7 linked regions of the Homo sapiens genome follow. The protein of the gene in region 2 purifies or fractionates together with the protein of the main gene of each other region. This does not show direct contact. Each region holds a gene or a part of one and is shown on either strand. Other genes may lie near its edges.

Region 1 (4,312 bases), on a different chromosome or scaffold from region 2:
AAGCCATCACTCTGATCTTTATCTCTCCAGTCCTTAAAAAACTGTTTGAAGATTGGTGTTTCACCTCCTTCTGGAAGAACTTGAATCTGAAATTTAAAATAATAATAATAGTAAACAGGAAAATAAGAAATTAAGGGAAAATATGAATCTGGCAGTGGAGACAAAAGTAAGGAAATGGAAAATTATCCTGGTTTAGCTATCAAGCTCATATAATCCAAAATTGCTTTTTCTCACAACTAAAGTAATTGCCGCTGAATTTGAATATTTGAGAGAAGAATCAAGTTCTTTAATATGTTACCCCTGCAGTAAAATAAGTTTGTCTTTCTACATAAGGTTCACAAGAGCTCTGTGACCTGGAAGAAATGATCTCATTGTGTTCCTTGTGCAGGGACATAAAAATGAGGAGAGTAGATGAGGCTGAGAGATTCGGAAAGGAAAGGAGTAACTAGCCAGGGTCTAAATTGATTTCGATGAAGACAAATATCATCTGGGTTTCAGGCCAAGTCTGCACAACTTGCTCTAAGGAATAATAACTCTTAAGTGCTCTTAGCTAAACCTACTGTGGTTTACTATCTTGAATTAAAGGCTGTGGAGGAAGTGAATGGGCAGCTCTATGGAAAGTCTGATGTGCAGTTTCTAAAAAATTCTAACCCCCACGCAGATAAAGAAGAGGGACACCAGATTGCAGCAGACAGGCAGGTGGAGAATCACTTCACATACAGACGTTACTTTGACCCAAACTTTTTCATGAGTTTCGTGGAGATGTCATGAGCTCCAATGTTTTCTATTTTTTTCTAGCCAGTTCAGTTTCACACATACTTGGGTATTCTTGGAATAATTCATTTGCTGTAGAAATTCTTCAGCTGTCTTCATTGCAGCCTTCCTCTCTTGGGGATTAGCATCTTTACCTAAAATACAAGGTAAATTAAAGAGAAAGAACTTCAGAGAAGGAAGACATTCTATGATTAAGAAATACTTGTGTACCATAATAAACATGATTATAATTGAAGTTAAATACAGCAGTGAAAGAATAGCAAAATTGGCCGGGTGCGGTGGCTCACGCCTGTAATCCTAGCACTTTGGGAAGCCAAGGCAGGTGGATCATGAGGTCAAGAGATCGAGACCATCCTGGCTAACACGGTGAAAGCCCATCTCCACAAAAAATACAAAAAAATTAGCTGGGCGTGGTGGCGGGCTGCACTCCAGCCTGGGCGACGGAAAAAAAAAAAAAAAAAAAAGAATAGCAAAAATTTCCTGGTATATTAAGTGTATTTAACAATACAGGAAAAAACGTTATTTGTAAAACAATTCTTTTTATATTGCCCAAATGCTTTTTTTTTAACTCCATAATCCCTGGTATATGATGTTGGTAGGAGGAAAATGGCTGCATTTTATGTGAGACATTTATAGATCATGTCTTAATTAAAAGGTGGGCTTTTTTTTAAAATCAAAAAATATATTTTATTTACCCTTATAGAGGAAATATCTATAAATCTGAAATACAGCATCGTCAATGGAATTTTTTACCTTTCCATACGAAAATTTGTTTGGCAGCCCCGTGGTCCAAAATAAAGCATTCTTCAGACAGCAGCATTGCCATTGAGAAGGGGTTTTCTTCTGCCACCACAGTCACTCTCATGGAGCCACTTGCATCTGAAACCTAATATAAAAACCATGACCTCCATGTTTTCATTTGGGGATGATAAGGATGTTCTATAATTAGATTATGGTAATGGTTGTACAACTCGGTAAATGTCATCAAATAAAAAGCATTGAATTGTACACTTTAAATGCAAGAATTTTATGGTGTATAAATTATATCTCAATAAAACTGTTTCAAAGAAAATGAAAAGAATCCACAAGACTAATTATACTCTAATTTTTTTGAAAGTCCTTTGGGGTAAAGGAACTACAAATAAAAAGTTAAGTTTTGACACTGTGCCTAAAACATCAGAAAAGAATAGTGATAATAATAATGGCTGAGGTCTATTCAGATGCTCTTATGTACTAAGCATCATGTAATTAACTTTCCATGATTATTTCTTGTACATTTTAGAGTAATCTTTTCAAGTAGGTAATAATCTTAAAATCATTACATACACACAAGATGAAGTTTAAACAATCACTCAGTCAACATTTACTGTCTACCATATACCAGTCGCTTTGTTAAGGAGGATATTGATATAGTTTATGCACAAAGATTTTTTCAACATAGGTCCTGCAATTTAAGTAAACTTTGTATAAATTATCAAAGTAAATTTCTTCTGTCACATTTAGAAATGACTACAGACTATTAAAACAAATTTTTAAGTGGTCTTACAAAATTGAAAGTGATATTCATGTGCAGGTTAGGATTTACTGGTTTTCAATGGCCAGCTTGTATGCTACAGTTTAGTTACCTATTATACAGATTCCAGAGCCCTCCCTAGATTAGTGGAGTTTTGCAGGACCAGGGTGGAGTCTGAATTCTGTAGTTTTGAAAATGCCCCAGGTGATTTTGCTTGCCAGCCTTGTTAAGAAACCCGAATTATTTTCAAAGGAACTTTATACTTTATATCCATGTAATACAGCATAGCTCCACTAGAGGAAGCTATGACTCAGGATGAATATTTTCCCATTTAAAAATACTTCTTTAGTTCATAATGCTGTCCAGGAGGGAGAACAGTTTTGGTTGATGATGTGAAATAAAAGATATCTGTTAGGCTGTTGAAAATGAGTTTTAGAAATAGTAATTTTTAAAAGCAGTCACAAAATATTTAGCTAACACTTTCTGTATGGCTCATATTAAAATTACCAGTATTTAGCAGAAATGGTAACCATATTTCCTTTTGCATCTAGAAGAAAAAAAATCCACTTATTCATTATGAAAAGGAAATTACGCTAAACAAGTTATTAATTTGGTCTTCATGTAAAATCACAGAGTTTCGGAGCCAAAAATCCCTTAAAGAGCAGCAAATATAGTTTCTTTCTGTTACAGATGAGAAAACTACTAAATTCTGCATGGAGATTTACGATCTGCTCCAAATCACACGCTTAGAAAGTTGCAAGGGGAGGGAACACTGGAAGAATACCACTGTAGCAACCTCCTTAACTGGAGTGTCTTGCAGTTTTTGTTACCCTCAACAGAAAAAACAAACAAACAAAGAATAAAAAAAACTATAGAGTTGGAAGGAACCTACTTTCTTTGTTGTGTGTGCATAAGAATACTTAGACCCAGAGTGGTTATGTCCTGTGCAAAGTCATGCTCCTAATCATGTGCTATAGAGCTGATATGGAAGTAGGTAGGTTAATGCCTGGAACAGAACTGTTTTTACCCTGTTTCCCTCCAGCTGTTTCATTTGGTAGCTCAGCCCTCCTGTAACAAAGAACTCCTTCATTATGGCTAAAGACAATGTTTTAAATAGGGTGAAGACTTTACATTCTTATCAAGAATTTATAAGAAAAAGCTGATAAAATATTTTTACTCCATAAAGGAAACATTGTATTGAGTATTATATATCAAAAGATCGTTGCAAACTAGTACAGCAACAATATATAATTTTATGAAGTCACAGCAATAAGTTCACATATTTGTTGTTTTTCATAAAAATAACAAAAAGTATTAAAACTTAATTAAAAAAACATACAAGAGCAAAGAACTGATTCTATCTACACATTGCTCTTGGAGAGCAATGAGGAGAGTTCTCAACTGCAGCAACGGGAATCCCGCCCAATACAGGCCTCCCTAGCTACATCCAGTACTGTTGAAACAATAAATTTGGTTACAGTGAACTCACCATGTATAGTTTAGCCATTTTCCTGTTACTTATGTCTGCTATAATGTCATCATCATCACCTCCATCTGGAAGCTCTGGCTTTTCCCCTAAGACCTGGAAAAAAGTGAGCAGTGGATGCAAAGATAAAGATCTCCCATTGAAGGATGCAGAGTTAGAAAAATACACTTATAAAGACATGGATTATAAAATATTTGCAATTAAAATGACCAGGCTCAAACACTTCTCATCAATGCATACAAGGTAGTCCTTTTCATATAGGCCAAATCAATCAATTGCATTAAGTAAACAAGCACTGAGGTTGCTTGTTTGCAACCTCAAACAATGAATTTCAAGAAAGGAAAATCCCTAATTTGAGAGCCTAGGTGTCCATATTACTGAAAGCTAGAAGGAATTAATTAAAATTTGAGCTCTATGTTCAGCTCTGCAGCAGAATTTCTTCTATGACCTCTGCTTCTAGAAATAATCTCTCAGTTTTATGAGTTTATTATAATAAAGATTTGAATCAAAATTACTATTTGGAGGTAAAATACTACTAT
Region 2 (4,101 bases):
TTCCCCCAGCTATGTCTGGGAGCTCCTGGCCTACCTCCTGCCTATATAAACGAGAGTTTCCACCCGAAAGATTACCCTGCAGTATCTGTATCCCCTTATGTTTAACCTTGCCATTTTCCCCGGGGGCAAGACAGTTATGCTCAACACTGTTCAAGTGACAAAGTAGTTAAATGCCATGAAGAGGAAAGCACTAGCCAGGAGGTTGCAGGCTGGAGACGTTAGCTTAAAGGATGATGAGGATGCAGGGAGGGGCAGGAGGGGCTCTGTTTGTTGTAACAAGGGAGAGTGTTTTGAAATTAATTGTAGTGTCTGCAGATAAGACCAAGCAGCAAGCTCTATGAGCCACAAGAGAAAGGTCAAAGAAGTCTGTAGAGCCAGTAGGTGGCAGTCGAGAGGCCTGCTGGTGTTGGCAGAGACAGGAAGCTATGGTGGAGGGAAAAAAAGTCCGTCTATACTTAGATGTCTTCAGGTTCCCAAGCTGAGGCGGTAGACCTGCAGCCACCAGATCGATGAATACGAGCTGCAACAAAAACCAAATCAGCTTGTGCATGACACTGGCCATACAAAGCAGACCCACAAGGGAGGTGGGGCCAGCCCAGTTCCTTAGATGATCAGAATGTCCAACTTCTTGGGGGTAGATGTGAGGGGACAAAAACCAAAACCCAAAGAGCACAAGAGGTTTGCTCAACGTGACCAAAGAGTTTACATGAACCAGACTTTTAAGCATCTCCATAGTAGCTGTGCAGGCATGCCCACCAGGGCCATCCTCATTGCCTCATCGGAGCCCCTCCAACGCTGCTGGAATGTTAGTTACCATTCCCATTTTATGGATGAGGAAAGTATGGCAGAGAGGGTATATTTCTTGCTTAAAGCAATAAAGCTAGTACCAGACAGGACCAAGCCTTTTTTTTTTTTTTTTTTTTTTGAGATGGAGTTTCGCTCTGTCACACAGACTGGAGTGCAGTGGCGCAATCTTGGCCCACTGCAACCTCGCCTCCCAGGTTCAAGCAATTCTCCTGCTTCAGCCTCCTGAGTAGCTAGCATTACAGGTGCCCGCTGCCACACCCGGCTAATTTTTGTGTTTTTAGTAGAGATGGGGGTTCACCATGTTGGCTAGGCTGGTCTCGAATTCCTGACCTCAAGTGATCCCCCACGCCTCAGCCTCTCAAAGTGCTGGGATTACAGGCATGAGCCACCGCACCCAGCTAGAACCAAGACTTTTGACTCATCTTGAGCCTCAGTCCAGTGCCTCCCTCAGTAGACTTGAGCCTTGTGTGGGTAGGGTTTCCATATCCATATCGCATCTGATTCTCACAGGGAGGATTAGCTCCTTCTCCCTGCAGAAGAAAAGAGCCCCAGTCCCTGAGAGCTGGCAGCAGAGCCAGGACTGAAATCCAAGTCCCTGGCCCATGGTTGAGGGAACAGAAAGGACCCTATGGCTTGGTGGGGGGGTTATTTTCCATTACTTGCCCTCATTGTGTCCACTGGGCCGGATCTGTGTGTGTGTGTGCATGGTTCCCCTGGCACTGGCTTGCCTATTTTTTTTTTTTTTTTTTGAGACGGAGTCTTGCTCTGTTGCCAGGCTGGAGTGCAGTGGCCCGATCTTGGCTCACTGCAGTCTCCGCCTCCCGAGTTCAAGCAATTGTCCTGCCTCAGCCTCCCAAGTAGCTGGGACTACAGGCATGCACTGCCATGCCCAGCTAATTTTTTGTATTTTTAGTAGAGACAGTGTTTCACCATGTTGGCCAGGATGGTCTTGATCTCCTGACCTCATGATCTGCCTGCCTCGGCTTCCCAAAGTGCTGGGATTACAGGCGTGAGCCACCCCACCCGGCCCCCTGGCACTGGCTTTTTCAGGGACTGGATGGAGAGAAGGGAAAGGCATCCATTTATTCAGGTATTATTTTTTTCCCTTTTTAATGATGAAGGAAGTTGAGACCAGGAGAGGGAAGTAACTTATTCCAAGTTACGAATAAGTCACAAAACTGGGAGTAAAAGCTGGGTCTCCCAATATCCTCCTTCAATTCTGTCTGGTCTTTACTTTCTTTAAAAAACTCTTCACTGCTTATTGCAAGAGCCAGAGACTCCTTTTATTGTGAATGCCAGAAGGGCTCTCCAGTCGTCCGGACCAACCTCCATCTGCTGCTTGAACTCCTCTGCCACTTCTTGCCAAATTTGAACATTTCCATCATGTTTTTGGAAAGCACTTTCTATTCATTTAAATATTCGGCAGCATGTACTGAGTGCTGTGTGCCAAGCACAAGAATCAGAAGTAAAGACACAGTATAACAGGAACCAAGATATACAATGTTTGAGAACTACTGTTTGAGAAATATGAAGTATTAGAGATGCCCTGGCAGCTCTCTGAGGTATGAGAGGCATAAAGAATGAAGTGGTCAGACCTTCCCAGGTGGCAACTAACAGGTCAGCTGAATTTTAAACAACAAAAAGGTAGAGGATGGGAAGGTGGGGGGCATTGGGAGTAAAGACCCTCTAAGGGTAAGCTTTTCCTTGGTCACTTGGGGGCACTCAGGCTACCTGGAATGGTAGTAACATGGCAAAGGGATGGCTTGTTGGAGATGTCAAGAGACGACCTCCTGATGGGACCATCTCCCAATGTGGAGCACCCAGGCACTGGAGCCACATTGCCAATTCAAATCCCGGTCCTGCCCACGGATTGTGGGTAATGTTAATTACCTACTTCCCTAGACTTCTGTTTCCTTCTTGTAAAGTGTGGATAACAATAGCACCTGTCTCACCTGGTTGTGGGGAGGACTACATGAGCTAGTGAGATGGGAAGTATTCAGAACAGTCTCTAACACACAGTAAGTGCCATGTAAGAGTCAGCTATTATTAAGAGACTTGGGAGTCATTTCAAGGGGCCTGACTGAGAGCAATGGGAGGCAAGTGAGGGTTCTAAGTGGAGGGGTGACAAGGCAAGCTTCGGAAGGAGACTTGGGATGAGTGCCAGGGGTGCCTGCCCTGGAGGAGCTGGGGGCCTGAGGATGTTGGAGGAGATAACTGTGACGAGGGCTCAACATACACGGCAGGACACTGGGATTGGCAAGGAGGTGACTGGCTGGCTGGGGTGGAGGCAGCATCTAGGAACAGGCCCAGATTTCTGGCTTGGGTGGCTGTGAGGAAAGGAGTAGCCTTTTCTTTTTTTCTTCTTCTTTTTTTTTTGATGGAGTTTTCTTGTTGCCCACACTGAAGTGCAATGGTGTGGTCTTGGCTCACTGCAATTTCTGCCTCCCGGGTTCAAGCGATCCTCCTGCCTCAGCCTCCCAAGGAGCTGGGATTACAGGTGCCTGCCACCATGCCCGGCTAATTTTTTGTATTTTTAGTAGAGACAGGGTTTCACCATGTTGGCCAGGCTGGTCTCAAACTCCTGACCTCAGGTGATCCGCCTGCCTCGGCCTCCCAAAGTGCTGGGATTACAGGTGTGAGCCACCGTACCTGGCTGCCTTTTCTGAGATAGGTTTGGGGGACTATGATGAAACTGATTTGGGATCCAGCAGTCCCACTTCTGGATATTTACCCAAAATATTAAAATCAGTTGAAAAGATGTTTCACTCCATGTTCATTGCAGCATCATTCACAATACCCAAAATAAGGAATCAACCTAAGTGTCTATCAACAAGAATGGATAAAGAAACTGGGGGATATATGCACAATGGAGTACGATTCAGCCTTTTCTTTAAAAAAAAAAAAAAAAAAAAGGAAATTTGTTCATTTGCAACCACATGAGTGGAATTGGAGAACATTATACTAAGTGAAATAAGCCAGCCACAAAAAGACAAATTATATGTGGAATCTAAAACAATTGACCTCATAGAAGCAGGGAGTAAAACTGTCATTACAGAAGCTGTGGGTGGGGAATGGGGAGATAATGGCCACAGGATACAAAAATCTCAGTTGGACAAGAGGAATAAGGTGTTTTATAAAGCTCTGTTACACAGCATGGTGAATATAGCTAATAATAGTGTATTATACATTTCAAAATTGCTAAAAAATAAACGTTCTCACCACAAAAAGTATTTGAGGTGATGATATGCTAATTCACTTAATTTAATTTTTCCACATTGTATTCATAAATCATAA
Region 3 (3,024 bases), on a different chromosome or scaffold from region 2:
TGTTCAGGATGTCTTCTGCCAACTTGGCTTCGTCAGGGTCTGATGCCCGGCCCACCCAGGCATACACGATGCCCTGGTTGTCCTCACTCTCAAAGGGAACCTGGGGAGTGTGCAGGGGTGGGGGTGTTCGCAGCTGACTCAGCCCCCAAACACCCCACCCCTTGGTCCACGGAGTCCTGGCTCACACCCACAACCCCACCTTGAGGATGAAGCAGAACTCGGAGTTGAGGAGGCTGGAGTCGGTGTTGATCTGGATGCACCTGTGGAAGGGATGGGGCATCAGCAAGGATTCAGGCCTGGCTCCCTGACGCTTGCTCGCCACTGCGTCCTCCCCCAGCCAGGCACCGGGTGCAGAGGGCGCTGCCGTTGGTGCGGATCTGGTAGAGGCTGGGCTGTTGGGCGCCCTGGACCGCCTTCCTCTTGCCCCGGTGGATGATGAACTTCCTCTTGAAATGGGACAGGAACTTGGGGTTCTCCTGCTGCTGCGTCATGCGTACCACCTGGGGATGTGGAAGTGTTAGGGGCAGCTCCCTGGACCCCCACCTGCCCCTCGGGAGCCTAACCTTCGCTGGGTCTGAGCCCCACCACACCCCTCCGCCTGGCCTCGGGCTCGCGGGGCTGCCAGGCACACCTCCAGCTTCCCAGGGAAGAGGCTCTCGAACTTCTTTTGCAGGCTGAAGGTGAAGGTGAGCCAGCCCATATTGGAGGCTTCACGGCCCTGCCAGAAGTACACGATGCACTGGAAGTCCTCCTCTGGCTGCTTCTCCTCTGCCTCAGCGGTTGCTTCCTCGCCTTCTTTGCCCTCGGCCTTCTCCTCCTTGTCTTCCTTCTTTTCCTCCTCCTCGTACTCCACAGGCACCCAGTACCTGCCGGGTTGGAAGGTTGTGAGCAGGGGCTCGAGCCCCCAGCACCAGGGGAGGGACTTGGGGAAGGGAGTGCTGAGGTGGTACCTGCAGAGGAAGACGTAGCAGTCCTGCGTGTAGAAGTGGCCAAACTCCTCTTCCGGCAGCCGCGCAAACTTCTTGCCCTCCAGCACGAAACCCTCCATGCCGTCTAGGTCTTCGTTCCACTCCTCCATCAGCTGCTCCGCCTGCAGGTGAGAGGGACCCGCCCCGCGGCAGGTCTGAGCGCGCTCTGCGCATAGGCCCCGCCCTCGGCCTGCCCCCCACCCCCCCCCCCGCGCCCCGGTCCCGGCCCTGCCCCCACCTCGGCCAGCGACATGGGCGGCTGCCGCGGCAGGAAAAGCGCAGTGAGGTCAGCCTTCATCTGGTCTTTCTTCTCGGCGTCGCGTTTCACCTTCCCGGAGAGACCCGGGCTCTGCAGCACGGCCTCCGCATTGCGTGTGTAGTCCACCGTCAACACATCGTCCCAATTCTTGAACTTGGCCTTGAACACCTGCCAGGGAGGCCATCAACTAACCATGAGGGGTGCGGCATGATTAGAGTTGGAGGAAGTAGCCCGAGGCTTGAGGCGGGACCCAAGGGAGATCTAGGGCGGGGCTTGGGAGGCGGGGCCTCGGACACGGAGGTAGGAATAGGAGGGGCAGCTTGCAGAGGGGGCGGGGCCTGGGCAGAGTCAGCAAAGAGGAGGTGGGTTTGGGCCCAGCTCTGTAGGGAGGTAGTGAAGCCACAGGGGTCAGGGCATGTCAGGGTGCGAAGGATCCTGGGGAGGGGCCTCCGAAGCTGCAAGCGCACCTGCGCCTCGGTGCCCTCGAGGCTGCGGCTGACCGTGGCATGGCGTGGCCGGTGCAGCATCCCGCACAGCTCCTGACCCAGCTTGAGGGCGGCAGCGCGCACCAGGCGCGGGGACTTGCGGCCGAGCCAGATGAACACGTCGGACCAACAGTCCAGAATGTACACGCAGCGCGTGTCCAGCAGACTCTGCAGCTGCGGACCGGGAGTCTGGAGGTCAAAGCCCAGCCAACGGGGAGGGATCTGGCCCCACGCCCTCCTCCTGCATCTCTTACCAGCCGCATTCTTGGCATCAGCTCCACCTTGGGACGCTGCTTATGTTCCACGGAGAGCTTGTAGTTGATCTGTGGCAGCTCCAGGTAGCCCAAGCCCAGGCCCACCTGGCAGGAAGGATGAGCATGGCAGGGAAGGGATCTGGAGACAGGAACCTCACCCACACAGCCCTCTGCTCTGGAACCAGCCCTGCCCTGCAGCGTGGCTCACTGACTGCTTCTGTTTCCCCCTCCCCTTCAAGGTCTTTTTAGGGATATCCTTTCAGAAGGGCTTTTAAATGGAGTTTTCCCTGCCTGCCCTCTCCAGGCCCTTCATGCCATTTCTAATTAACGTGTCCCTTTCCTGTTCACAAGAATCTAGATAATTGAGCCAAGGTTCCCAGCCCTGGCACTAGGTGCTTCTGTCTCCCCTACGGCCCCACCATCCTGGAAAGACTCCGTGAGGCTACTTCTCAAAAGCAGCCTCCAGACCTTTGCTCATACTGTTCCTTGTCCAGAAGGTGGCACCCTCTCCCCACCAAAGTCGAGATGGAGCCCAAAGCCAACTACATCGGTGTGTAGTCCATTCCCCCAGTCGGTGGGTGAACTTGGGAGGCCAAGGTGGGCCTCAGCAGCAGGGCTCACCTTGTACAGCTTGGGCTGCGGCGGCCAGAAGTCTTCAGGCACGTGCTTCTTGATCTCAGAGGGCTCCCCACCCAGTGCCTCCCAGAACTCTGGGAGCTCCTGGCCCTGCACCAGCAGTGTGATCTCAGCCTTCCCTTTCCGCTCATTCTTGTTAATTTTCTCTGCAAAGAGCCTGAGAGCAGGATGCAAAGTCATCAGCGAGGCTCACACCCCTTTCCTTCACACAAAAGACCCCACGGTGTCCTTGTACCTGGCCTTGGTGGTGCTGCTCAGTGTGGCCTGGGCCCCCCGCCATACGTAGATGTCTAGCCCTCGGTCCAGCAGGAAAACAAACCTGGACAAGAAGGGGCAGGAAGGAGCTGTGATGGTGCATGGGGCAATGGTCACCCCATGCTCCTGACCCCACCAAAAAAAATCCCTCACTATGGGGTTTCTGG
Region 4 (4,312 bases), on a different chromosome or scaffold from region 2:
AGCAGCCCAGGTTCTGGACTGTATATACTACAAGATGCTCTAGCATATATGTTACTACAGTATCCCTTGCAGCAAGAGTTAGAAGAAAATTCTTTACCCTATGATATGTGTGAGCAGGGCTTGAGAAAGGAGCCCTGCCAATTCAGCAGCAGCCCCTACCAACCCTGTGTGTAACCTTGTGGAGCCTCCCTGCCCACGGGACTGGGCCCTCTAGTTCCCTGAACGCGGCCCCATGCCTTCCCATCTCCCAGGTTTTGCTTCTGCTGTCCAATACTGTAAGGGTCCTTTTCTCCCACCTCTGACTTGCTTCAAGGCCAAGCTCAATTTTCACCTCTTTCATGACTCCCCTTAATTATAAGTCCTTCCCTTGCTGTATTTTATTTGCATTTTTATGACATTTGTCATGCTTTTTAAACATCGTATGTGTAAGCAAGAAGAGGGGCCCTGTCTTGGCCTTCCTAAATCTACCTATGTACCTAGCCAAGTGCACACAGTGTATGCCTAAATAAATATATGTTGGAATAAATGCTGTTCAGTAATGTGATAATGTGTTATGGGTAGAGCTATAAGTTACTAGATGAACATCTGACCTAGGAAGTAAATCACTTAAAATGAAAAGTTTAGAAATGATGGCAGGGGACTTTTAAAATCCCTCCAAGAATCCAAGTTTAGCAAAAATCAGTCTCTGGCATGATTACAGTAATAAGATTTGCAAAAGATAAACCAAATCTAACATACCACAGGAAATATTCAGATTATCTAACTTAAGAACTTTTCTACATTTCCACATGACCAAGGTTACAATTACTTATACAGTCTTCAATGTGAGAGGTTTTTCTTTTTTTTTTTTTGAGATGGAGTCTCGCTCTGTCGCCCAGGCTAGAGTGCAGTGGCGCGATCTCGGCTCACTGCAAGCTCCATCACCCAGGTTCACGCCATTCTCCTGCCTCAGCCTCCTGAGTAGCTGGGACTACAGGCACCCGCCACCATGCCTGGCTAAATTTTTGTATTTTTAGTAGAGACGGGGTTTCACCATGTTAGCCAGGATGGTCTCGATCTCCTGACCTCGTGATCCACCCACCTCAGCCTCCTAAAGTGGTGAGAGGTTTTTCTAATTGGACAATTACTGTCACCTTAAAAGGAACAGGGTTACCATCTCCCCAAAAGCCATATCTGGTAGTGAAAGAGAAGTATTCCTATTTCTGAGCCCTAAAACAAGCTTCAGGATCTGATTTTTAAATTGTTATCCTCAGCAATCTATTGATTATCCAAATGTACTTCTTCCTTCTCACTCTCCAAACCACCTTTCCCTTCCTGTTTTCAAAAGTTTAAGTCTCTTATCTCAGTAACTTCATGTGTGTTTTGAAATCCCATTCCAAAACACTCTCATAATAGGCAAGGCACCATCCAGAACCAAGAGTTGCTCCACTCCTGGCCTTCTGGTCCAGGGAAGCTGCTTGCTTTTGTCTTTGCCAGCTTTCCCACAGTCCTGCAAAGCTCACTTTGTTCTACACCTCCTGCCTGGGTACTTTACCTTCTGCAAATACCAGCTATACAACAACCTACCTACTCTAGGAAGTATTCACACATAAATGCCAGCCCATTCCCCCTAAATCTGTTTCCTTTTAAATTTGCTGCTTAAGGACAATCTCTCAGATCTATTCCCTACCCTCTCTCTAAGACTGCTGACAGCTACTGAACTGGTTCAGGCTCACCACTGTAGTAGCTTCCTAACTAGTCAGCCTGCCTTTTCCCATGTCCCTGTTCTCATCTACCGCCAACACCAAAATGACATTCTTGAACAAAATATTCACCAGGAAATGTCACAAGTGTCCTAACTGATGTCCAACAGAAAAGATAATACCAATATCAAAAGTTAGTATTAATAAGCCTTAACCCAAAAAGTCTTTTCTCTTTTTTTTTTTTTTGAAGAGACGGGTTTTCACCACATTGCCCAGGCTGGTCTCAAACTTCTGAGCTCAAGCAATCCACCACCTCAGCCTCTCCAAATGCTGGGATTATGGGTGCGGGCCACCACGCCTGGCCCCAACATGTCTTTTCTTGGCAGCCTATCTCAGAAGGTTTAGATGAAAAGTCCATGGAATAAACAAGATTTTAATATTAGTTATCAGAAAAGTCACTATTCTTATTGGAAAAATGAAAATCTCCTCTGTCCGAGAATTACACATAATCACTAACAAAGGCTAACTACAAATTCCTGCTGAAATCTTCCTACTATGGGAATTAGTGTGACTGCAGTGATCATTTTATTATGAGGTCAGAAGTAGAAAAATGAGAAAAACTGGAATAATTCGGGTAAAATGAATAGAATAGACTTTATTTTGTGGACTTATTTTAAATTTCATCTAATAAAGATAAACTTGGATTAACAAAATACTTCTAGGAAAATTCTGAAACTACTCAATTTAGTGTGAAGTAGTTCCAAATAGATTCGTCCAATTATCCAAGACAAATTCCAGAGAAAAAACTTTAATGGGGAAGGGTGCTTGCTGTATGGGAGCTTAAAGATGACAAATGGATGTGGAAAAGGACAGTGCCAGGTTGTCAAAAGGCATTTCACTGTGTGCAAAAAGTTCCTAGAAATCACTTTATCCAGAAAGGGTAAGAGCAATAAACCTCATTATCCCCTGAAGCACACAGGCTAGTGGAGCCTCTATTCAGCTATATTGCTGACTAGGACTGTTTTTCTGGACTAGCCAAGGACTAACCAATTTTTGCAGCATAGCTCTTCTTAAGAAAAGCATATTAACGGCCAGGCGCGGTGGCTCACGCCTGTAATCCCAGCACTCTGGGAGGCTGAGGTGGGCAGATCACCTGAGGCCAGGAGTTCGAGACCAGCCTGGTAACTATGGTGAAACTCTGTCTCTGCTAAAAACATAAAAAACTAGCCGGGCATGGTGGCAGGCGCCTATAATCCCAGCTACTCAGGAGGCTGAGGCAGGAGAATTACTTGAACCCAGGAGGCAGAGGCTGCAGTGAACGGAGATTGCACCACTGCACTCTGACCTGGGTGACAGAGTGAGACTCCCATCTCAAAAAAAAAAAAAAAAGAAAAGTGTATTACAAGATACCAGCAACCTGCTGACAAACCCACCCCTGGGACACAGTCTATATACAGACTGGGACTGGCCTGTCCCCTGGTACCTACTCTGCATTTCGATGAACTGCAAGTCTGAGCCATTCTGCAGTCCTGCCAGGTCACCCACTGTGCCATCATTCCTGGAGCATTTCTGTCGTTCCTCCTCTAACTGAAGCTTCAGTTTTCTAATCTGAAATGAAAATAAAGGTTCATCAGCAAGATCCAATCTCTCAAATGAAGCCGATGCTTATTCTATGGTCACATCATAGAACAAAGCAGACCCTTATCGTATCAGCCACATTCATTCAAAACCTATTTTCTTGAGTGCCTAATAGGAGACACACATCGTCCTAGGTGCTAAAGATAAGCTACGAACAAACATCGAAAAGAGCAAGCCCCAGGACCAGGTGTCCCAGTAGAAAATAGCCATATTTTAAATTTGTGTCTGCTTATGGAACAGTACATCTTTGGGGTATTTTTTGTTACTTTTATTTAAAATGGAAAATTCTAGCCAGGCATAGTGGCATGTACCTATGTATCAGGCTACTTGGGAGGCTGAGGCATGAGGATCACATGAGCCCAGGAGTTTGAGACCGACCTGGGCAACACAGTGAGACCTCATCTCTAAAAAAAATAAAACAAAAATATAAACAGTTAACTGATAGGGTATATTCAAGAGATTATTTCTTAAAATGGAAGATTCCATGAGCAGTTTTTTGTTGTTTACTTTTAGACATAGGTTAAATTTTCTTACTTAGAAAACATCCTGTATGTAAAAATAATTGGGGCTGGGCACGGTGGCTCACGCCTGTAATCCCAGCACTTTGGGAAGCTGAGGCGGGCGGATCACAAGGTCAAGAGATCGAGGCCATCCTGGCCAACATGGTGAAACCCCATCTCTACTAAAACTACAAAAATTAGTGGGGCATGGTGGCACGCGCATGTAGTCCCAACTACTCCAGAGGCTGAGGCAGGAGAATCATTTGAACCTGGTAGGTGGAGGTTGCAGTGAGTGGAGATCACATCACTGCACTCCAGCCTGGTGACAGAGCGAGACTCTGTCTCAAAAAAAAAAAAAATAATAATAATAATAATTGGATACATAGAGATGGCTTCCCCAGCTGTCCTTAACTCCACCAACAGGGGTCAAAGGGAGGCCTCTGCACTAAGATTAAGTTTGCCACTCCCCAATGGGAAAAGGGTAAGCTCTAT
Region 5 (4,312 bases), on a different chromosome or scaffold from region 2:
ACATTTTCCTTCACTGCCTGTTCATGAGCTCTCTGCAGGCTTAAGAGGACGTCCCCATTTTCTTCCAACAGCTGCTCCCCTTGCTGAAGCAGGGACAGGGCTCCATCTCCTTCCACCTCCTCCTCTCCTATCACCTGGCAACCACTCTGAAGCATTGAGAGAGGAGATGTTGCCTGCTGCATTTCCTTTATTTTACTCTGAAGTCTGGAGATTTCTGTGCTCATCTCGGCTCTTTCTCGATCTGCTGTCTCACAGGTCGCTTTGTGAATGTTCTCCATGGCTAGAAGCTTGGACATCATTTCCTGCCTTTCCTGGTCATGTTCCATTTCTAGTCTTTCCAGCCGCTGGCTGGCCAGCTGCTCCGAAGCCCCTGCCTGGCACAGGACCTCCTCACGCTCCCTCAGTTCCCTTTTGTGACTGCTCTTCAGCTCAAGTATCTGGTCAGACAGCAGGCTTTGCTGGGTTTCAGATACATTTCTTAGGTCTTCCAGGTCTTGGAGTAGCTGCTGTCTCTCGACGACCATGCTGTTCAAATGTTCTTTGTATGTTTTCTCCAGCATCTCTCTCTCCTGGGTCAGGACCAGAGAAGTTGTTTTCTCTCTCTTAAGAGTCTCTTTCAGCAGCTCCTGGGCTTCCGCACACTCCTGGGTGAGCTCGTCCTTCTCAAATTCCCACTGGGATTTCTCCTCACGCTGCTGTTCCTGGAGGTCCTTCAGCTCTTGGCGGTAGCGCCCCTCCAGGCTTTGCAGAGCGCTTTCACACCTCTCAGTGACTTTCTGACAATCAGACTGAAACTGGGCTTCTATTTGAGAGGTTCTTCTATTACACTCTGTTTCCATTTTTTCCCTAAATATAGTCAACATACAGCATTATTGAAACTGCCGCCAACTCCAGAAGCAAACAAAAACCATTTTCCCATGCACTGAGAAAGCTGCTGAGCAAACAACTGAAATACTCCCTAAAAATGCTCTTAACTTACTCCTATGTGATTCATTTATACTGGAAAGGGATCTCATTTCTGAAAGCTAAGACTGGCAGCCATAATTCATTTAAAAGACTTACCTCTCTCTGGAGTTAGGGGGAAATCTTAGAAACTAATTTCTCTGGCACACTCCCGGATGTATTTGTTTATGGATTTTTAAACCAAAGACAAATGACCAAATGTATATTAATCTAATTCCTCACTTGGGAAATATATACCATTCCTTCATTTTAATTAAGCATGCGTTATAGGATATCAGTCACATAAATGACACATATGAACAAATTCATTCTGCTTTTGCTTCTTACTTAACGAAGTAGCACCAAGTCAATCAGCGTGTGACGAAACAAAGCCCTCAAATAAACCTGGGATTTCACATGAGGAATGTAAGCATGGAGTGCTGTTTCTTAACTCTGGGAGGAAATGTAACCTTGCCTGGAATCCAGTTTATTAATAGCTTTTCTCAGAAAGCAACAGGATTGAACTAGGAAGGAACCACTTTTGGGATAATCTTATCCTCCTCTTGAGCCTTATAAGGTAGAATAAATCTTAATACGAGGAATACTTTCCTCTTTTACAAACATAACAAAATAAAAACAGTTCCAATCATCCCAAGGTAGGTTCACATCAAAATAATGGCAAAAACAGTAAAAAAATATTTAAAAGAGTCTACTCAATCAATGGGCTATTATGCCTTCTGACTTCTTCAAGTCTCTTAAGCGACTGGCACTTTTTTTTTTTTTTTGAGACGGAGTCTCGCTCTGTCGCCCAGGCTGGAGTGCAGTAGCGCGATCTCGGCTCACTGCAAGCTCCGCCTCCCGGGTTCACGCCATTCTCCTGCCTCAGCCTCCAGAGTAGCTGGGACTACAGGCGCCCGCCACCACGCCCGGCTAATTTTTTGTATTTTTAGTAGAGACGGGGTTTCACCATGTTAGCCAGGTCTCGATCTCCTGACCTCGTGATCCGCCCACCTCGGCCTCCCAGAGTGCTGGGATTACAGGCGTGAGCCACCGCGCCCAGCCACAACTGGCACTTCTAATGCCCCGAGGGATGGTGCCCCAGGTAGCTTCATTTCCCTTCACTTTCTTACCTTCCCTCCTGAAGCTCCCTTTGGTGCTTTTCCAAGAGCTCTTTTCTTAACTCCTCTTTCTCAAGAGTGTGTTTCTCCACCAGGCTTGTCAGCTGCTCCTGGTGAAACTGCTCTAGTTCCTGAGTCAAGCCTCTCACCTTCTCTTCTGTCCAGGCGCTACTCTGAAGGCCTTCCCTCTCCCGCTCAAAGCTTGCTTGAGCCTGTGTCAGTCTAGCCTTGAGCTCCATCTCATGTTGCAGCCTCAGCTTCTCCTGCAGGTGAGTCTTTTCCTCCTCAAGCTTCACTTGCAGTTGTTTTTTCTCCTCCTCATGCCTGCAAGTGGCCTCATGATGTGCCTCCTTGAGCACTGCTGCTTGCCCCTGAAGTTCAGCAATTTCATTTTTAAGGTCACTTATTTGTTTTTCTAAGGTGTGCGTTTCGTTCTCATGCCTTTGCTTCATGTTCTCCTGTGCCTTCTTGCAGCTGACCACGGTTTCGTCCAGCTGCTTTTCATAATGGCGCACCTGAAGGCACAGAGTGACACCACCACAAGATTACTCAGCTCAAGGTCACTGAAAGTGAAGTGATGGAGCAGCAATTGCTTTTTTTTTTTTTTTTTTTTTCCCTACAAGACATTTCTCATTTCTCTATCTTGTTTTAAAGTAACTGAATTCAACACTTTAAGCAAGATACTTAAGTCAGGCATGGTTTACATATCTCTTTTAAGTGGCTGAATTTTATTAGTGTCTGAACAACCTTATTAAGAACTGAGCAGCCATTACACATAGCTACCCTCTGTCTTCCCATGCATCCTTTCCAACTGTAAACTTGAGTCTTGGAACATATATATTTTTTGAGACAGGTTCTCACTCTGTCACCCAAGCTGAAGTGCAGTGGCGTAATTATGGCTCACTGAAATCTCCATCTCCTGGGCTCAAGCAATCCTCCCACCTCAGCCTCCTGAGTAGTTGGGACTAAAGGCACACACCACCGTGCCCTAATTTTTTTTTCTTGGTAGAGACGGGGTCTCACCATGTTGCCCAGACTGGTCTTGAACTCCTAGGCTCAAGTGGTCTGCCCACCTCGACCTCCCAAAATGTTGAGATTACAGGCATGAGCCACTGTACCCTGCTGGGTCTTAAAATACTTAATTAAATTCAAATATTAATTGAACACCTATCAGGTACTTGCAGGCCTCGGAATACAACGCTGGGTAAGATATGGTCCCTGCTATCCAGGAGAAACCAGTCTAGACATGGATATGACAACTATAAGTACAGTAGGAGGCAGAAAATAAAAGGTATACAAAAAAGAGCTACAATGTAACCCAGGGACTCAAAGGAGGGAAAAAAATCACATTTTAGTTGGAGAAATTCAAGAATGGCTTCATGCAAGAGGCAGCATTAAATATAAATCCTGAAGGGTAAGTAGACTTTCGAGAGGCAGAAAGAAACTAATATCAGCATAGTTTGTAACAGCACAAGCAAAAGAGGACAGAGTGTGATGGACAACTAGGAACTACCCAATTTAGCTGGAGGATAAGGTAACTCATAAGAACGGTCAGTTGAAGTCTGGACTGGAAACGTCAGTTGAAGTCTCATGGTGAAGAGTTTAGAGGCCAAGGTTCAGAACTTGTACCTAATTTAGTAGGCAATGAAACATCAAAGGGCTTTTTTTGGTTTCACTGAGATGTTTTTAAAAAAGAAATTGGGAGATAATATAATGGGTTTCAAGCTTCAAGTTCCATGATTGCCAGGGCTGAAGATATTACATTTTGGAGAAACTCTCCAGAAAAAAGGGGCCTTGCTGTCAGCCTACAAAACCATCCTGAGGATGTGGGTTCCCAACATAGAATGTGCTGCTCTATGAGAAAAAAGAATTGGAAATGCCCTACACACATAAGCCTGTCAGAGCCAAAAGAAATTAGAGAAGTGGATTGGTGGGAAGGACTTACTTTATCTTCGAGCTCCAGTCTGAGGCAACATATGTCCCTGTGATGTTGTTCTTTCATCTGTTCAATGACCAGCTCTGCCTCAATGCTCATATTCAATGGATTGCATTCTTCAGAACCGAGCCCTGAAAACACATGGGACTCATTGATCCTGCAGCAGGTTCTTTCAATAACACAGTGTGGCATCTGAGGAGGGACATCCAGTTTAACTAAGGAATGATTTTCAGCCTGAATTACCAGAGATGTGAACTAATAGGAAATAACAGAGGCCAAGAGAAGTCTTTTCTCTTTTCAAGCGTTAGGGCAAACA
Region 6 (4,312 bases), on a different chromosome or scaffold from region 2:
GCGGTGGCAGGTGATATAGGGAAAGGGAGTCCGTGGAGGGGAGGAGGAGGAAGAGGAGGAGGAGGAAGGCCCACTGTCCGATGCCTTTATGAAAGGGCAGTACGGACGACCTGCCGAGAGAGACAGACAGAGAAAGAGACAGAGGACAAGAGAGGGTCAGTCTCCCCCACCCCTGCCCGAGGCCTCTCCCGCCCCCAGGGCCTGGCCCTGGATGTCCAAGCTGCCTTCAGCCAGGGGCACAATCAGCCAAGCCAGCCGCAGCCTCACACCAGCCCCAGACACACAGCCAGCCTGGGAGCAGTACAGCAGGGACGGCCTGTGGCGGGACCCCAGCATGGGGCAAGCACACTCAGACCAGCAGACAGGGCAGGGAAGAGCTTCAGGAGAGGCGGAAGCAGCACACTGAGAAGCGGAACGGGGACACCTGGGTGCAAGCTCCGGGAGGCTCCCTCAGGCCCGGGGCAAGAGCCCAGCACGCATGCATTCCGGCCTTCCAGGCCAGACCTAATTCACCCCAGCCGAGCTGCTCCCCGTGGCCAGCGCTGTGCCTCAGCCCATGCCAGAGCTGCCCCACAGGCCCTAGCACTCCCCACTGTTCAGCCACAAGCGACTTCACCACCATCCCTGGCCCTTCTTGGGGTCCTGCCACCTGGGAAGTGGTGGGCGGATGCACGCTGGATGAAGGGTCTCGCCTTCTCCAAGGGTTGCTTGGGCAAGGCCTCCCTTCTGAGAGAGTCCCAGAGAGGCTCAGGGCCGCAACCTGAGGAGTGGGGCCGGACGGGGGGTGGGGCCTAGGACTACCTGGTCGATGGTTGAAGGGCGAGGGTACATCACAGCTGCCCGCAGAGGCCGATGCGACTCTTTCCTGCTGCTTGAAGAACTCCCTTGGGTTGTCAGGCCGCTGGGCAATAATAGCTGCTGCCTCCTGAGGGCACGAGGAAAAGGTTGGGGCTGGGCCAGGCAAGCTGAGATAGCCCTGTCTGCCTCACCTGGCTGGTGCCCCCAGCTCTCACCTCCACCTCCGACTCTGACTTCTTCATGTGGGTCTCTTCCTCCTCATCCCGATGGTCACCCTAGAAACCAAAGGGACAGTGTCTGGTGCACCTACCCCCCACAGGGGCTTTTGGCCTTCTTTTTTACTGTATTTTATTTATTGATTTTGTTTTTAAGACAGGTTCTCGCCCTACCACCCAGGCTGGGGAGCAGTGGTACAATCACGGCTCACTGCAGCCTCTGCCTCCTGGGCTCAAGCAATCCTCCCACCTCAGCCTCCCGAGTAGCTGGGACTACAGGTGTGCACCACCATGCCCGGCTAATTTTAATTTTTTGGTAGAGATGGGGTCTCCCTATGTTGCCCAGGCTGGTCTCAAACTTCTGGGCTGAAGGGATCCTCCTGCCTTGGCCTCCCAAAGTGTTGGGATGGATTACAGTCATGAGCCACCAGTGCCCGGCCTTCTGGCCTTCTTTTTTTTTTTTTTTTTTTTTTGAGACGGAGTCTCGCTCTGTCGCCCAGGCTGGAGTGCAGTGGCGGGATCTCGGCTCACTGCAAGCTCCGCCTCCCGGGTTCACGCCATTCTCCTGCCTCAGCCTCCCAAGTAGCTGGGACTACAGGCGCCCGCCACTACGCCCGGCTAATTTTTTGTATTTTTAGTAGAGACAGGGTTTCACCGTTTTAGCCGGGATGGTCTCGATCTCCTGACCTCGTGATCCGCCCGCCTCGGCCTCCCAAAGTGCTGGGATTACAGGCGTGAGCCACCGCGCCCGGCCCCTTCTGGCCTTCTTACAGCCCCCATGCTTCTTTCGCAATCTGGCAGGAAGGGTTTCAGAGGTGGTACCTCTGCCCCGTCAAACCCTGTCACACAGCCCCTCTCTTCCCTCAGGGCCCTCAGCCACCTCATCTCTGACCTGCCAGGCCTCTGGGCACCAGGCTCACTCACTCACTTGCTCATCCCCATATCTAAGCAGGTGCCTAGGGCCCTCCAGAAGTGCTCCTTGTTTTGCAGATAACTTCTTGGACCTCCTACCCTAGTGCCGGGGCCACCATGCTCCCAATGTTGCTGCCTGGACCGTGGCATCATGGTCCAGCCTTCCTCACTGCTACCTGCCTTATTTGCTCTCCATAGGCCCTGAAAGGACCTTTCCAAAATGCGGATCAGACCATGATTTTCCTGAGCTTAAAATCCCTCAGGGGTTCCCATGAGCCACAGCAAGCACTGGCTAAATATGACCCACAGATGGCTTTTGTTTTGCTGGTATGATATTTTTAAACCATGTTCATTAGTTACCACCACTTAAAAACCAGGAACTTTCATACTGAGATGAGGGTCCCAGTTTCTCTTGAGGTGACAGAGCCCTGGCGACATCACCTGCAAGCCCGGAGCAGCCATCACCGGGGCCTCGCCGCAGCCCCCTTAAGACAGGCGTGTGCCACCCGCTCACCCCCGGCCCCACCATCGCCTACTGGCTTCACCTGCCCACTGCACACGTTGTTTTGGGTGGGCAGCGCCCGCACTTGGCCTACGTCCCCCACCCCTGCCTGACCTAGCCGTCACCTCTCCAACACCACCCCCTGCCGGCCCCCACCCCAAGGCTCCCACATACTGTGAGATGTAGACATCAAGTCCTCAGCACGACGCAGTCAGTTCCCAGAACAGGCACACCCGTTCCCACCTCCAAGCCTCAGCATGGGAGACTGGCCTCCCTCCCAAATGCCTGCTCCCCACCCGGGGGCCAGGCCCTCTGGTTTCCAGCTGCAGCGTGGCCACTGCTTCCTGGGGAAGGACCTCTGAACAAGAGGCTTGTTCAGGTCATTTCCTCCTCTGGGTCCCCACAGGGTGCTCCTGGCTTCCACCACGATGACACCACATCCTAAGTTCCTGTTTCCGGAGGCACCTCCCCCCTCCGCTGTGAGCAACGCAGGATGAGGACCGGGGTCTCCGGGTGGGTGGCCAGCACAAGGCGGGCGCATGTTTGCTCAACTGCACTCACACACCAAAGGCTTCTTAGTCGGTGTCCCCTGCTGCTCAGGTGGCAGCTTGGGCAGGAGGGGCTGCTAAGGTGGTGAAGTCCCAGGGCTGCTCTGTTTTTGAGCCTATAATCTAAAATTTTAGCTTATGTCAGGAGCACTGGGAGAAGGGCCCTTCGTAGTATCCCACCTCAGGAGGGCTATCACCTCAGTGATAACTTTGTGACCCCCAGAATGAAGTCTAAACTCCTCCTCTGCCCTTGCTCTCCTTTCCCAATCAAATCTCCCCCACTCCTCAGCCCACGGGGTTCCAGTCAGCCTAGGCTCTTCACCTTCCCATGAGCCTGTGTCCCACCAGCCTTTGCTGCTCTGCCCACTGCCTGCTGTAATCTCAGTTGGTTCCTCTGCCTTGTTCAAAGAAAGGACCAGAGGCAACTACCACAAAGGCTTTTTTTTTTTTAATCTGAGACAGAGTCTTTCACTCAGGCTGGAGTGCAGTGGCGAGATCTCGGCTCACTGCAAGCTCCGCCTCCCGGGTTCACGCCATTCTCCTGCCTCAGCCTCCCGAGTAGCTGGGACTACAGGCGCCCGCCACCACGCTCGGCTAATTTCTTGTATTTTTTAGTAGAGACGGGGTTTCACCATGTTAGCCAGGATGGTCTCGATCTCCTGACCTCATGATCCGCCTGCCTTGGCCTCCCAAAGTGCTGGGATTACAGGCATGAGCCACTGAGCCCAGCCCTCCACAAAGGCTTTAATAAACTACCAACCATGTGAACACTGAAACAAGTAAGGCCCAGAGGGAGGAGAGAGATCAACGCACTAACCACATGGGTCAAAGCCACTGCTGTGCCTAAAGCATTTTCAGATACACGGGAGCTCCCCTGCAGGCCAGGCAAAAAGGGAACTCAGATATGGAACACAATTCGTAACAGGGGAGAGAAAGCAACAGCTCCTTAAGCCAAGAGAAAGCATTTCACAGTGCTAAATCCCAAAGTCTCTCGCATATTCCCTTCCTTAGAGGACCTGAAATTGAAAGGGTACCACACTGACCTGCTAGAATGTCCACTGTCACTCTCACGTGAACTATACTTGAAGGGCCAGATGGGACTATAAAATAATGGTAAGCTCCTTCAGACTTTACCTGAAATGTTGATAACTGGTGAAAATAAATCAGCTCAGGGGGTTCACAACACTATTCTGTCTACCTGCATGTGTGTATGTTTGAAATGTTAGCAAAAAAATAAACTTTATCAGGGCTGGGTGCAGTGCACTTTGGGAGGCCGAGGTGGGAGGATCACCTGAGGTCAGGAGTTTGAGACCAGCCTGGCCAACATGGTGAAACCC
Region 7 (3,500 bases), on a different chromosome or scaffold from region 2:
TTGTACATAAATGAAATCATACTATATATACTATTGTGGAACCTGATTTATAATTAAAAATATAAAGTATTAGATTTTTTCCAGTAACTATAAATCCATATTATCATTTTTAATGGTTGTATAATAATCCATTGTATCCATACCCACTAAGTAAGGAAAAGATGATGGTTATTTGAGGATAACCAGTTAGTCTAGAAATTCTCTTATTAAAATTCGAATGTTTGAGTATCTCTATTAGTAAGTAGTAGAGTAAGTCAGGTTTTTTGTGGTTTCTTTTCTCTTCTCAGTGTTAGTATAGACACCATTGCTTGAATAGCAGCTGTTGTCTCTCCTTCCCCCTAGGAAGTTTGGAGTAACTGTCCTCTAGCTTCAAAGCAAACGACCTTCCTATTTAGTGGTGACATGGGAGAGCAGTAGCAGCCCTAATTAAACCTTACAGCCCTGGACAGTGCTCACAGTGTGCAATTTTGAGGATTCTCTGTGTGGTACAATATGTAAATGACTCTTAAGAGGCTTACAGGGAATAGCAAATGGATGCAAAATTTTATTAAGATCTTTCTGCTCCATTGGCAAATAAATTAGAAATGCTTTTGGTTGCTTTATTACAGTAATACCCTATGCAATTTTGCTTACTAATCAGCAGAGATTATCTCTAACATAATAATTACTCAATAACTAATGTTGTTTATCTAGTATACTACATTTTGGGAGACAGTTACTAGATTATGAATATCTTAGCTGCCAAATACACTTGGACATTAATTTATTCTAGGGACTTAGCTTCATGAGAATGTTTCAATTGCATAGAAATAATCTATCTGTTCTGTTTTTAAAGAAAATCTTCTTTCACAGAAAGAGCTATCTGTTTTTATGTTGACAGTGTAAACTATATCTAATTTATTCTTGTATTGACAGTTACACTTTTTTTTTGCTTTTTTATGCTTTAATGTTCTTCATTAATAAGTATTTGGAAATATACATGAAATATACCAAGATAAACAGGCTGTATCTTGTTATACATACCAAAGGCTAGCCTAACCCATGATACTTTCATGGCAGGTTTTTGAGATGGATATTTCTAAGCAGTTGCATGCCTATGAGGTGGAATATCATGTGCTACAGGATGAGCTTCAGGAATCTTCATATTCCTGTGAGGATAGTGAAACTTTGGAGAAGCTGGAGAGGGCCAATAGCCAACTGAAAAGACAAAACATGGACCTCCTAGAAAAATTACAGGTAAAGAAATAAAGATTTGAGCAAATAAGTACTTCAATGCCTCCTGCATGCACAGAACTACCTCAGGAATGAAAGGGATATGTGCGTGGAATGAACCATTGCTAACCAAGAGCCCATGTATCAGACTGTCCAAGTGCTCTGGGGCTACAAATGACATGTTAAATTAAACATTACTTGGAAAAAAATGCACCCTCACAAAATAGCTAAATGGCAGTTCAAAGTGGAATCTGCTTAAATACCTGTTGCATGTTATAGATATTTGGTTAAATTAAAGGGAGGAGGAATTGAATGTAGGAAATTGATGAAGTTGTGAAGGACCTGGGCTTGAGCTGGAATCTGGAGGGTTGGTGGAAGAAATGAGTGAGGAGGGTCTTTAAGTCAGGCTGAGTAGGAGGGTGGCATCAATCAGAAGGACATGGCAGAGCAGCAAAGTTAGCCTAGTGTCAATTTAAGATAGAGGTTGGGGAGAGGTAGGGTAAATATGATAGAGGCAGAATCGTAAGTGACTTTCAGTGTCAAGCCAAAGAACATGGCTTTAATCCTGTCAAGAGGGAAATCTCTCAAAGTTTTTGGGCCATGCTGTAGAAAGATCAATCTGGGAACCTTGACGAGGACAGATTGAGATGGGAGAGAAGGTAAGGAGGCCTGCTAAAAGTCACTTGTGAAAATCTGTTGCGGATGATGAGAGTTGTCTAGACTAAAATGGAAATTGGAAGAGAGGGAGACATGTCTAGGTAAATTGAATCCCATGCAAATGTTACATGTAATATTAATACATCATTCCTGCCATCAGGGAGTTCACAATTATTTGAGAATATAAAATACTATATATCTGTCTCTAAGCGCACACTTATACATGCAATAAGAAATTTATTATAAAGTCATATTCGGTATTTGCAACTTGTATGATGTGTGCTATGTAGCCATGCCCTGAGGGGAGGGGCTTAAGAGTGATCACAGGATGGGGGCTAGCAGGTGACCCTTCTGAAGTCTTCGGGGAGATGACTTCAGGGGAGTTTCAGTGTCTAATGGCTCCTCGGTTTCCACTTACTCCTCCTCTCCATTTCCCCAACACTGCACCTGGCTACAAACTGGAAAACACTAAAACTCTGCTTCTATATGGTGAGTCCCCTGTCAAGACCAGTCAAGAGAGACAGGTTAGAAATGAGGGATCTCTAAAGTAGTTGCTTCCCAAGAATGGGAACACTAAACTTCCTTCGCTTTGTCTTACATTGGCTCTGGCTCATAGAAAATGTAAATCTTTTTTTCTATTCAAAAAAGGGCAACATACTCTATTTTCAAAAAGAAAACTAAATGGTTAGTATATTGTCCATTTTTAGTTGGATAGGTCAATGGCGATTAATTATTTGCCCCTTATTAGGGAAGGTGGGTTTGTACCTGTTTTATAATGATTCGTCTGAACTGTTGTAGACTTTTTCACTGACAGTTCAGTGTAGTCATCATCAGTTACTTGGCCACCCCTCACATCTATAAATACTGATGAAAGCCCAAGTGTATGTTTAGAGAACGCCGTATTTCAGTCAGAGAAGGAAAATCTCTTTTAGCACTGCAATAGTGTCAGGAATCTCCTGTTTCTCCTTCAGCCAGGCCAGATCCCACTCACTCAGGGGAACACCAGTGGGTGTAGAATAAGGATTCCTACTGTTGGTGAGGGGGGTGATTTAGTATTGAATTATTCGTGTGTTCAGTGAGAAGAGATGAAGCATGGTAGTTCCATAGTTACATCTTTGTGAAACCTAATAAATCATCGTTTCCTGTAGGTTTTCAGAGTATTTGCTTCACATAATATTTTATTAAGTAATTTGAAGTAATTGGTTAATATGTGTAAGGACTGTCTCCTACTATAATGAATCATTTGATTTGGAGGATTTTTTCCCCCCCAAACAGGTAGCTCATACTAAAATCCAGGCCTTGGAATCAAACCTGGAAAATCTTTTGACGAGAGAGACCAAAATGAAGTCTTTAATCCGGACCCTGGAACAAGAAAAAATGGCTTATCAAAAGACAGTGGAGCAACTCCGGAAGCTGCTGCCCGCGGATGCTCTAGTCAATTGTGACCTGTTGCTGAGAGACCTAAACTGCAACCCTAACAACAAAGCCAAGATAGGAAATAAGCCATAATTGAAGAGGCACGGCCTCAGCAGAAAGTGCTCCTTAGAATACTACAGAGAGGAAGAGCCTGCATGTCGCTGGCCCAAGGCTGGACCCTGAAGCTGATGGAACCACCTAATACTGGTGCTGAG

What was found.
Region 1: the proteins of TMOD1 (region 2) and SCIN purify together in Homo sapiens (affinity purification with mass spectrometry; 4 studies listed by BioGRID and IntAct, with this or other methods). This does not show direct contact.
Region 3: the proteins of TMOD1 (region 2) and FLII purify together in Homo sapiens (affinity purification with mass spectrometry; 4 studies listed by BioGRID and IntAct, with this or other methods). This does not show direct contact.
Region 4: the proteins of TMOD1 (region 2) and LRRFIP2 purify together in Homo sapiens (affinity purification with mass spectrometry; 4 studies listed by BioGRID and IntAct, with this or other methods). This does not show direct contact.
Region 5: the proteins of TMOD1 (region 2) and NIN purify together in Homo sapiens (affinity purification with mass spectrometry; 3 studies listed by BioGRID and IntAct, with this or other methods). This does not show direct contact.
Region 6: the proteins of TMOD1 (region 2) and DBN1 purify together in Homo sapiens (co-immunoprecipitation; 3 studies listed by BioGRID and IntAct, with this or other methods). This does not show direct contact.
Region 7: the proteins of TMOD1 (region 2) and TBC1D4 purify together in Homo sapiens (affinity purification with mass spectrometry; 3 studies listed by BioGRID and IntAct, with this or other methods). This does not show direct contact.

Annotation. Positions count from the first base shown.
Region 1 is NC_000007.14:12,622,358-12,626,669, reverse strand, and holds part of SCIN (scinderin), read right to left. Parts: intron 3,870-4,312; coding exon 3,777-3,869; intron 1,661-3,776; coding exon 1,528-1,660; intron 909-1,527; coding exon 820-908; intron 87-819; coding exon 1-86. UniProt on the Homo sapiens protein: Ca(2+)-dependent actin filament-severing protein that has a regulatory function in exocytosis by affecting the organization of the microfilament network underneath the plasma membrane.
Region 2 is NC_000009.12:97,595,152-97,599,252, reverse strand, and holds part of TMOD1 (tropomodulin-1), read right to left. Parts: intron 1-4,101. UniProt on the Homo sapiens protein: Blocks the elongation and depolymerization of the actin filaments at the pointed end. The Tmod/TM complex contributes to the formation of the short actin protofilament, which in turn defines the geometry of the membrane skeleton.
Region 3 is NC_000017.11:18,245,963-18,248,986, forward strand, and holds part of FLII (protein flightless-1 homolog), read right to left. Parts: intron 2,922-3,024; coding exon 2,838-2,921; intron 2,760-2,837; coding exon 2,588-2,759; intron 2,072-2,587; coding exon 1,967-2,071; intron 1,887-1,966; coding exon 1,695-1,886; intron 1,396-1,694; coding exon 1,207-1,395; intron 1,091-1,206; coding exon 951-1,090; intron 867-950; coding exon 632-866; intron 501-631; coding exon 346-500; intron 261-345; coding exon 200-260; intron 101-199; coding exon 1-100. UniProt on the Homo sapiens protein: Is a regulator of actin polymerization, required for proper myofibril organization and regulation of the length of sarcomeric thin filaments. It also plays a role in the assembly of cardiomyocyte cell adhesion complexes.
Region 4 is NC_000003.12:37,055,621-37,059,932, forward strand, and holds part of LRRFIP2 (leucine-rich repeat flightless-interacting protein 2), read right to left. Parts: intron 3,291-4,312; coding exon 3,170-3,290; intron 1-3,169. UniProt on the Homo sapiens protein: May function as activator of the canonical Wnt signaling pathway, in association with DVL3, upstream of CTNNB1/beta-catenin.
Region 5 is NC_000014.9:50,757,785-50,762,096, forward strand, and holds part of NIN (ninein), read right to left. Parts: intron 4,128-4,312; coding exon 4,006-4,127; intron 2,576-4,005; coding exon 2,073-2,575; intron 847-2,072; coding exon 1-846. UniProt on the Homo sapiens protein: Centrosomal protein required in the positioning and anchorage of the microtubule minus-end in epithelial cells. May also act as a centrosome maturation factor.
Region 6 is NC_000005.10:177,459,631-177,463,942, forward strand, and holds part of DBN1 (drebrin), read right to left. Parts: intron 2,797-4,312; exon of another isoform or gene 2,602-2,796; intron 1,074-2,601; coding exon 1,014-1,073; intron 926-1,013; coding exon 802-925; intron 111-801; coding exon 1-110. UniProt on the Homo sapiens protein: Actin cytoskeleton-organizing protein that plays a role in the formation of cell projections. Required for actin polymerization at immunological synapses (IS) and for the recruitment of the chemokine receptor CXCR4 to IS.
Region 7 is NC_000013.11:75,286,670-75,290,169, reverse strand, and holds part of TBC1D4 (TBC1 domain family member 4), read left to right. Parts: intron 1-1,059; coding exon 1,060-1,236; intron 1,237-3,144; coding exon 3,145-3,378; 3' UTR 3,379-3,500.